2 separate regions of the Homo sapiens genome follow, and region 1 is linked to region 2. The links come from fine-mapping of genetic effects on gene expression. A gene starts in region 2. The other region holds a variant in brackets. All regions are shown on one strand. Distances are between the middles of the regions.

The links. PIP is the estimated chance that this variant, and not a neighbour inherited with it, causes the effect.
Region 1: its variant is the best candidate, but not a certain one, in a credible set for the expression of UCN3 in sigmoid colon (GTEx, PIP 0.57).

The regions. Positions count from the first base shown.
Region 1 is chr10:5,324,356-5,329,731 of GRCh38, reverse strand. No RefSeq gene overlaps it. Among named protein-coding and RNA genes, the nearest start is that of UCN3, 38 kb to the left of the region's middle. The variant C/G (reference allele first, on the strand shown) is at 2,549.
Region 2 is chr10:5,361,674-5,367,049 of GRCh38, reverse strand. UCN3 (urocortin 3) reads right to left here and starts at 2,084. Exons shown (of 2, transcript NM_053049.4): 1 at 1,820-2,084.

The DNA.
Region 1 (5,376 bases), 37 kb after region 2:
CCTTTCCCCACAGCTTCTCTTGCTCTCCCCTGCCCTCGCTTTTCCCCGCTGCCATTGACATAATTGGGGATGGGGCTGGGTGGAGTTAGAGGAAGGGGAAGGGGGTTGGGTTACCTTGACAATGAGGGGGTTGAGAAAAAGAGTCCAGATTGAACTTATTAAGGGAGTAAATTAATGATACAAGATACCCAGGCTCATTTTCTGAAACTCTTAATCAGCCTCCCCCACCTCCGACCTCAAGGGTCTCCCAGGCCTTACACAGATAGTTAGTTGACAAAGGGTCTAATGCTATTGACTGCTGGTGATCATAGAAAAAAATTTGTTTTTACCTTGAAGAACTTTACCTTTCCTATCTTGAAGAACTGGTTTGCTCTTGGAAGAGCAAACCGGTTTTCCAGATGATTATAATTTTGTTAACACAATTTTTTTCTTTTGCCTTGATCTTCAGGAAGCCTCAAGCTGAGTTTGATGCCCAAATTCAAATATCATGGAAGCAATTATATTAGTCATGTAAACCTTTTTCCTTTTTAATTCTAACATTTTGTTTTTGGATTTCAGATTCGGTAGCATTATGCCATACTTTAAAAAATGACACCTTTAAAAAACATTTCTGGAATATGCTGAAGTATAGATGGTCAATGAAACAAATTTTGTTAGCCAGACTTGTCTGTTTCCATTTCCAGGCCCAAATCACACGGAGAAACTCACGGAAGATGAGTGGAACGAAGTGTGTTAGTTCGTTAGGACTCTGCCATAACAAAATACCAGGTAGTTTAAACAACAGAAATCACTTTTTTTTTTTTTTTTCACAGTTCTGGGGTCTGGAAGTCCCAGGTGCCAGCAGAGTGGGTTTCTCTCAAGACCTCTCTCCTTGGCTTGCTGGGTCCTCACGTGGCCTTTCCTCTGCACATGCACCTCTGGTGTCGCTTTCTTTCTTAGAAGGACACCAGTCTTACTGGATTAGGACCCACTCTTATGATCTCATTTAACCTTCATTACCCCTTTAAAAGCTCTGTCTTCAAATAGATATGGTCTATTTCAAATAGATACGATCTATTTCAAGTAGATACGGTCACATTGGAGGTTAGGGCTTCAGTGTATGAATTTTGGGAGGACACGACTCAGTCTATAACATCAGGTCTAACTGAATTCTTATGAAATAATTAAAAGGGCCAATAAATAGAAAACCATCCAGGGGCCATGATTTTGCTTTCTGCATGGCCAGGAACGAGGTATGGGCTGGTTGAAGGAATCTGCCCACTGTCTGACTCTCCCACTGCCAGACTACCTGCAGAAAGAGAGGGCTGTCTGTCCCAGGAGCTCTTCCTAGTCTTCTCATTTTTGTATGGTTGTGCTTCTCAACAATTCTCCTTCAACAAAGCTTTATCCGTGGAACTTACAGCTCATCCAACCAACCACCCTCTACATTGGCTTGGAATCCAGCAGCAGGTGCCATGTTTTGGCTGTGCAACCTCAGGACTTCCTGCCTTGCCATGCACTTGAGCAGGAGTTTTTGCCAGCTCCCTGCTTTGATGTCTCTGAGATGAGAAGCTTGGAGTATAGTGCTATGATTTGGATATTTGACCCTCCAAATCTCATGTTGAAATTTGATCCCCAAGTTTGGAGGTGAGGCCTAGGGGGAGGTGTTTGGGCCATGAGGGTGAATGCTCATGAACAGCTTGGTGCTGTCCTCCTTATGGTAATGAGTTCTCACTCGATTCGTTCATGGGAGAGCTGGTTGTTTAAAAGAGCCTGGAAACTCCTCTTTTCGCTCTTGCTTCCTTTCTGGCCATGTGACCTGTGGACACAATGGCTCTCTTTGCCATCTGCCATGAGTGGAAGCAGCCTGAGGCCCTCACAAGGTGCAGATGTTGGCACCATACTTCCTGTACAGCCTGCAGAACATGAGCCAAATAAGCCTATTTTCCTTATAAATTATCCAGCCTCTGGTATTCCTTTATAACAATGTGAATGGTCTCAGTGTTGGACTCAGTGTTGGAGTCAAGGGGATGCTGAATTGCACTTGGTGTTGGAGTCAGATCACAAGTCTACTGGCTCCCTGGCCTGTGCAGAGCCGAGGCCATTCAGGGCTGGTGCTGATGGGGACGCTGCAGCTTTTTCCCTCTTCTGGTCTTGCTGTAAAAGCTACACCTCGCTTGACTTGTACAGGGGACCAGACATACATTTCTTCTCTTCTCTCTAGAGCATGGGGCGATGACGCAGAATTCACTCCTGAGTTCTGGAAGTGCCGTATCCTCAGTATAACCTTTGTAGCATTTGGCATGGAGGAACCCTCTATGAACTCATGTTATCAAAGTGATTGCGAGCATGAAAGGGGCACCCCCTAAACATTTTCTAAGCGAACCCTCTGCTCTGGGTACTGTGAGAGGTTCTAGGGTTATAGTGATGAGTGGGAAACCAACTTGCCCTGCAAAACTCACATGACAGACATGGTGTTAGATACTTAAGCAGATGCTTACCATAAAGCTTCATAGAACAATGACAGAGATACACACGAGGGCTGGGAGGGCTGGGAGGGCTGGGAGGC[C/G]CCCCCCTGGCTAAACCAGACCATGGTGCAGGACTCAAGTGTGGCAGGACTGCAGAAGAGGCTTTCTTTACAGAGGGGTAATGAAAGAAATGAGGATCAATAGGATGTCACGGAGCCGTCTCTGAGAGTGTGCTGGAGAGGATCAGCCCTTGGGACACCAGTGAACATGTAGATATATCCTGGCATTTCTGAATGCTTCTGAGTGACGACCCAACTCAGGAGTCAGAGGCAGGGACCCTGGGGAAGTCTGCAGAGCCACCTCTTCTCTGCCTGGGCTATCAGCTTTCTGAACGATACAGTCGGCTGCTGGGCTTGGATGGTGGAGTGGGCCTTCATCACTGGTTGCTGCCAACGTCTTTTTATATTCTCCCTAGATGTTGGTTGTTTCCCATATCATGAGTCAGCAGGTCTTTTCCCATATTAGGAATCCTGCTTTCTCAGGGCAGATTCCATAAAGCTCACATGAAGGTGGAGGCATGTAACTTAGGATCCGCCACATGGATGCACGCCACACCCACCCTGTGAGACATGGATTGGGAAGTGGGCATCCCAGGAAGGCAGCTGCGCATCAGGGCAGGGGATCTCCTGGGAGCACAGGGCGTGTTGTGCAGCTGTGCCAGGTGGCAATGGTGGGACTCCAGGCACTGGGACCTTGCCATGCAGGTGAGCTTTCCTGTTGCTGTTGCAAGAAAATGTTCCAAAGAGCTAAGAGAGACGTGTAGAGGACATCTAAGCTGCCTGGTAAACAGTCAGTGGCAGATTTCTAACTGAACCCAGCAGCGGCCAGAAGAGCCATTTGCCTAAGTCACTGACCCCCAGAATTGTGACAGAAGTTGCCCCACGGTGCGATCGAGCATTGTTCCTGGAGGCCTAGAGTAGAGGCTAGCTCTGTGGACCATCATGATTCTCCTACTTACCATCCTTAAGTAAATTCCTTTTCAGTTTAAACTCTTGTGTTAGTCCATTTTGCATTGCTACAAGGGAATACCTGAGGCTGGGTAATTTATAAAGAAAAGAGGTTTATTTGGCTCCTGGTTCTGCAGGCTCAGGAAGCATTTCCTCACGGCAGGAGGCGGAGGGGGAGCAGGTGTGTCACATGGCGAGAGAGGGAGCAAAGGAGAGGGGAGGAGGAGGTGCCAGAGTCTTTTAAACAACCAGCTCACAGGAACTAACAGAGTGAGAACTCACTCATTACCTCGGGGAGGGCACCAGGCCACTCATGAGGGATCCAACCCCATGACCCAAACATCTCCCACTAGGCCCCACCTTCAACACTGGAGATCCCATTCCAACATGACACTTGAATGGTACAAGTATCCAAACCAAATCCGCTATCCAGAGTTTGCAACCAAGAACCTTGACCAACATCTTGGTAAAAGACACAGCAAAAGAAAACAGATGAAACCCACAGAGTCCTGCATCTCATCCTTCATGCCAACCCCCAGAGTAGCCTGGGTGGTGCAGTGGCCTCAGTGAAGGTCACTGAGCTCATAAGGAATCCTATCCTAGCTGTGGAGTTTGGCCAAAATACGGATGGAAGTGGGCTAGAAGGAGGTGGAGACTGAGATTTTAGAGAAAGATGACTAAGGACCCCACGGCTGTCTGAGTGAGCACTAATTCAGGGTCACATGGGCTGTCCTCAGTTGAGATAGAAGAAACTGAGAGACAGGAAATACTGAGATTCGGTAGTGAACCTGGACAGAAAGAGGAGGGAGACAGGTAGCCAAAGGCTGAGGCCAAAGGAAGCCAGGGATGTGCTGGAGTGGAGGCTGGGGAACAGCTTCAGGCTGGTGGCTCTGGGAGGCCTGGAAACTGAAATCATCGCCTCTGCTCTATAATGTCTCTGGGGGAGGCAGGAATTGATTTCCCTGTGGGGCTGTGGTTTCGAGTGCAGGCAGGAAGAAAGGCAGCTCTGGACACCGTCTTGTTCTCCCTTCTGGGATGACCACACGAACTTACGCAGTCTTTGCTCTGCCTCACTGGTTTCTGCTTCCCCTGTCCTTGGCCCCCACCTTCTCTGCTGTCACAATGTGGACAGGAGACAAGGTCTTCAATTCTATTAAGCGCAGCACAATGATTTATCTGTGTTCTCTGCATTTGAAATCAAATCAGAGTCAAATCTGATCACTGAGGAACAGAGAAACTCATTTAAGCCAAGGGCTTTGCTGGTCATCTCCATCAAAGGGGGAAGGAAAGGGCTCTGGTTCAGTTAGCCTGGGGAGGGGATGAGGTCGTGTGAGGTGGATTTATAATTGAGCCTACAGTAAAACTCGGAGGGGGCTGGGACAGCTTCCCCTTCCCACCCACATGCAGGCTGGCAAACAGCACTCCTGTGTTAGGTCCCTGGAGCACCTGTGCCTCTGTCTTGTGTCCCCTGTCTTGAGTCTTGGGAGGAGGCAGTGCCCGTTCCTCAGCGAAGAGCACAGTTCAAACCCTTCCTCCCACTGCACTGTCGCGGAGTCTGCAATCACAGTGGCAGAGGCTTTCTGCTTTGAGGCTTGTCAGCCTTCAGGAAACTCAGATTTAGCTCCAAATGCCATGGAAAGAGGAATTTCTTCAACCATTAGAGGCAGGGGGCTTGGTCAAGCCAGAAGGCAATGGAACAAAGCACAGGTTGGGAGAGGAAGGGAGAGGCGTGGATCAGGGGCTAAGAATCAACCAAACACCAATCAGGCCAGTTTCCAGTCTTGTCCAGGGCTGGCTTTGATTCCAAGCGCTGTTAGAATTACAGTTTTCTTTCTTTCTTTCTTTCTTTTTCTTTCTTTCTTTCTTTCTTTCTTTCTTTCTTTCTTTCTTTCTTTCTTTCTTTCTTTCTTTCTCTTTCTTTC
Region 2 (5,376 bases):
ATTTGTAAATACTGTGCCTTTTAAAAAATGCATTACCTTCTTATTTTTCAAATCCCAAGTCTACCATCAGAGAAGAATACTGTAATCACGGCTAGGGTGCTGAAGGTGTGGAAAAATCTGTGAAAGTGTCAGGGAGCAAGTGTCCTGCGTGGCGCTCTGTTCTTGGTGCATCTGCAGGTAGCAGACCTTTCTCTCTCTGCAAACCCTCAGCTCTAGCCTGCACACGGTTGTGAGGGTATTGAAAGGTGTCCCCTTACCATCAGCAATGATGCAAAGTTACACAGCAAAGGAACCTCCCAGAACTGTGAATTGGACATGATAGGGACGCCCGGTGCTGAGCTTAGTTTTAGATCGTTTAAAATGTAAGGGTTCTTTGCAACCCTGGATGGTTTCACCATCAAAGTGTGTGAGTGGCTGGGGGCTGGAAGGTAGATTCAGATTTCTTTCCAGGACTTTTCTTTTTAGGATCTGTTTAGATTTGTTTAGGGTTTATAGGATAAAAGAAAAGGAACTCTCCCCAAAGAAGAAAAGATACTCTGTACTTCCCACATAAAGTCTAATTTTGCAAGTTTCTCCTTTTACATTCCTTGGACTCTTCTGCCATATTCTTGGTGAAACAGCACAAAAGTTTAAGATTTCTCTGCAGTCTGCCACGAAAATAACTGGGCACCATCTAGTTATTAATACATTTGAGGGGCAAAGCTCTACACCTGTATTTTTCTCTGGGTGCCTGAAACTCAACCATTCCTTTGGGCTATGGTGACAGTAGCACTTGTCGAGGATGCTGTAAAGAGACACAGTTACTTCTGGGAGCTGTGGCAGAGCCAAGCACTGAAACGTGAGGGACCTGGGTCAGCCTCCAATTCCCAGCACCTCACAGGGAGAGGACAGGACATGAAGCAGCAAAGGCAGGAGGCAAACAGTACTGATCACACATCTCTGCCAAGTGCAGAGCTATTCCTGTGGGCTCCGTTTGTCTGCAAACACTGATAAGAAGTTAAACTGAAACTAGACCACTTAAAACGTTTTAAAAATCTCACATTTGTTATTTTTGGTAGGTGGCTATGCTTGGGAAAGAAATTGCGAACAGGAATTTTCAGAAAACATAAACATCAAACATCCATCTCCCCTTCACAGGTAGGAGTTAGCCATTGTAGGTATCTGCACACACCCCCGCAATGTTCCTAGTGTGGCAAAGGGCTCTGGGCTTTGGTGGCAGAGGACCTGGCTGGGGAAACTCCCTTGCCTCTGACTTTTCTTGGGTGAATCCCTTAACCTGCATTTCACTTGCCGCGTCCTAGGAAGGAGACGTTACCTGCTTCACAGGTGTGCCCGAGAGTGACGGGAGATGGCACAGGTGAAGGTTTGTGGCACAGGTAAACAGTAAGTGCAGGTGTCCTCGCTGCTTTGCAGGCGGCGTGGAGTCATGTCCTGTGGCTCCCATTAGCCCCGGCATCCCTACCCCATCCCCATTTGTAAACTGTCTCCGAGGACTGACTTTCCTGTGCACAGCTGTGCTCTGTTCAGAGAAAACAGATTTGTGTGAACACCTTCTGCCTCTGATCTAACACCTTTGGAAAGAGGGTCTCTCTATACCAACGTGGGAATGTGATTGTGCCTCCCTGAGAAACTTCCCCTGGTCCCTTTGGGGCTGATTTCTGCTGATTGGGTGGGGGGCGTTCAGCATCGCTCCCTTGGGCTTCCACCCAGGGGCGCTAGCAGCTCTCATCTCTCACACCTGTCTAGTGCATGGCACCTCCTGCTTAAATTAGGGCAGATACATTTACCCTTCATAAGTCAGTCCCAGCCACAAGCTTACCCGAGAGTGGACTTCCCTCCGCAGCGAAACGCTCAGGGAGGCCGGCGCAGCTTCAGGGCCAGGAGGGCGGCCCCGTGCACGTCCCCATGAACTTGTGGCTGCTCCGGGGTCTCGGCTCCTGCTTCTCCGGTATTGTTCCTAAGTGGGCTGTGATATTCCCTCTCTATGGAAACGGTCCCCTCCCCTGTGTGTATATAAAAGTGACAGATCACAGGGTGGATCGTAATTCCAGACGTGGTGTCTACGCTGGGATGAGATTTCATTTAAAATACAACCAGAACCAGCCGTCCACGTCATGCAGACGACAGGTGCTCCAACCTCGACCCCTCCCACCTCTGCTTCCCACCCCGCCCTTCTACCCCCCAACTCCTTTTGCATCCTAGCAACTTGCTTCATTGATAAAAGCAAAGAACAAAAAAGAAAAAGAAGAAATAAAAACTCAAAACAAAACAAAACAAAAATCCTGGTAAAGTGAGAAGCAGTGTCTTTGAAGAATTTTATTGCTGATCTTAGTTCTAACTAATTTCAGTTTCCCCCACATTCCCCTTGCCCTAACTCTCCTTCTGTAAATGTAGAGCCTGGACCTGCTTTGAAAGCAGAGAAGGGGTTTAAAATCCACCTGTTGCCGTGTTGTTTTGTGGGTTCTGACCGTGCAGCGTCATCTGGCCGCACACGTAGCCCCTTGTGCTTGTCACACACTCGGTGCCTACTCCCCACATAAAGTCTAATTATGCAAGTTTCTCCTTTCACATTCCTTGGGCTCTTCTGCCGTACCCTCAGTGAAACAACACGAAAGTTTAAGATTTCTCTGCAGCCTGCCGCGAAAATGACTGAGCACCATCTATTTGTTAATACGTTTGAGGGGAAAGCTCTACACCTGCATTTTTCTCTGGATACCTGAAACTCAACCATTCCTTTGGGCTATGACAGCAGGTCATCATACACCAGAGGTCTGGAGGTTTTAGTGGGAAATGGCTTGGATTTTACTCGTTTATGCATCCTATATTTATTGAGGACTTACTGTGTACCAGGTATTGCCAAGACACCCACGAGTTCAGAGATAAGTAAGTTGTGGCCCCTAACCATACAGGGCCTCATGGTTTAGAAAGGTAGGGAAGGCTGGGTGCGGTGGCTTATGCCAGTAATCCCAGCACTGTGGGAGGCCGAGGCGGGCAGATCACGAGGTCAGGAGTTCAAGACTAGCCTGGCCAACATGGTGAAACCCCGGCTCTACTAAGAATACAAAAAAAATTAGCCGGGCATGGTGGCGAGTGCCTGTAATTCCAACTACTCAGGAGGCCAAGGCAAGAGAATCACTTGAACCTGGGAGGTGGGGGTTGCAGTGAGCTGAGATGGCGCCATTGCACTCCAGCCTGGGCAACAGAGTGAGACTCCATCTCAAAAGAAAGAAAGAAAGAAAGGTAGGTAAAAAATGCTACAGAAGAGAGCAGTCCTGTCTACTCAAGACAGGAGAGGAGAGCAGGAGGGGTTTCAGACAGAAAGGATGGATCAGCATGGACTGAGCCAGGGCTGAGAGGAACGGGAGAGAAGGAGGACGATGGGAGGGAGGTGTTGGTGGGTGCAGAGGCTGCTCTGCACTAAGGTGCTCCAAAGGCCTGCGGAGTTGGGAGTTTATTCCATATGTAATGGGGAGATGTGGGAGACTACGGTCTGTTGACCCCTTATTCACAGATGAGGAAGCTGAGGCTGTAAAAAGTGACCTGCTGGGACCCCACAGGCCCAGGGTGACAGAGTCAGGTGAGAACCAGGCCTGACGCTGGGCTCAGTGCTCCTTTCACTGGGCTGAGCTGATGACAAGGGGCCCTGCAAGACCGGCTGGCTGTCCCTAGCCCTCCTCCCAGACGGCTGCTCCACTCTCGTGAATTCCTGCAGGTGAAGAGGTAAGAGGTCTTCTGAAATTACCAAAACTCTTTAAAGCCCATGAGCATTTGGAGGAACAAATGGAAAGCTGTTGTGGGGAAGGACTTCAAGACTCTGTACTCCCCATTTTAAGTCTCTTTATGGAGATAGGAAATTGGACCTCCCTCTCTTCCTTCTTTCAGAGCTGCCTGGGCTAGGATCCTCTTGAGATTGGAGGCAACATGAAACTGAATCTGTGTTTCAATTCAAATTCATTACTTCATTCATTCATTCATTAGTTCATTCATTCATTCATTCATTAGTTCATTCCTTCATTAGTTCCTTCATTCATTCATTTGTTCTAGTTTTTGTGAGGTTTTTGTTCTGCTTTCCATTTCAGATAATGATGCAGTAATGGAATTTATGCAGGTTGAGGGGTAGATTTCCACCTGAGTTTAACTCTCCTGTCTGCCTTATGGGCTCTGAGATGCCAGGGATCTGGCAACGTTGGTCTCCCAGGGCAGGGTTTCCCATCCTCAGCACTGTTGACATTTTGGGTGAGGTAATTCCTTGTTGGCCTTGGGGTCTGCCCTGAGCTCTGGAGGAATTTAGCAGCATCCTGGGCATCTACCCATTAGATGCCAGTAGCACTCCCCTCTTTGTCTGTGACCATCAAAAATGTTTCCAGACATGTCCTCTGGGGGCATGAGGACCACTTCCCTACAGTATGGGGTTTAGAAAGAGAGACGATGAACCCTGGCTTCTTTTCTTACCTTGTTTCCTCTGAACTTCCTAGAAATCCTCCTACCCTGAGGCCACCTCGCTGGGACTGAAGGGTCTTGGTGTTGGTGGCTGTTCTTGGAGCCTGCCGTCCCTTCGTCACACAGAGCAGGCTCATCGGCTCCCACTGGTCCATCCTGGGTGGGCTTTGGCATTGTCCAGTGACTTCTGCTAGCCTGGATGGAGTTCCACACAGAATGTTTCATGGACATGAGCAGCTGTAAGGGTGCAGTCCAGGGTGTAGTTTTCTAGAAATGTCAAGAAATAGTACATTTGCTTTACAACTTGAATGACGCATCTGGTGGGGGACTGAACAGAGGCTTGGGCAGCAAGAAGATGATGAGTAGCAAAACCTCTGGAGTGTCATTTCTAGCAAACAACGATTTCCCTCCCTCCCCATGGCTGATGTGTGAATGTGGCGTGTTTCTACACTTGCACTTCTCTCTGGCCTTTGTGAGTCATTGGTATCTTCCGTGGACTCAGCATGAGCATGTTGTTCAGGGATGTAAATGTCCTGTAGAGGGTACAAAGAGGGCCAGGGTGAGAAGAAAAAGCTGATCAGCTTCTCAGGTGAATAGAAATGGCTCATATTTATAAAGCTCATTTCTCCAAAGTGCTCAAAGCACTTACACTTAATAACATAATTATTTCCTCAACATCTGAGCATGGCGGTAAAATAAAGATAGACGAGAGAATTAGCAAAGTGTGAGAGAGCTTGACTTATAGGAGAGAAGTTTTACTGAGGAGCCGGGAAGGTCCGTTTTCATTTCTGCCTGGGTTGCTAGCATGGCTGTTTGATTCTCACAGACACCCACATTCCCTAGTCCTCTGTCTCCTGTATTTTAAAATGTAGATTGCTGTGCCTTCCCTGTTTGTTTTTAGCAAGGTTGATGTCAAGATAGTATTGCAATAACTTG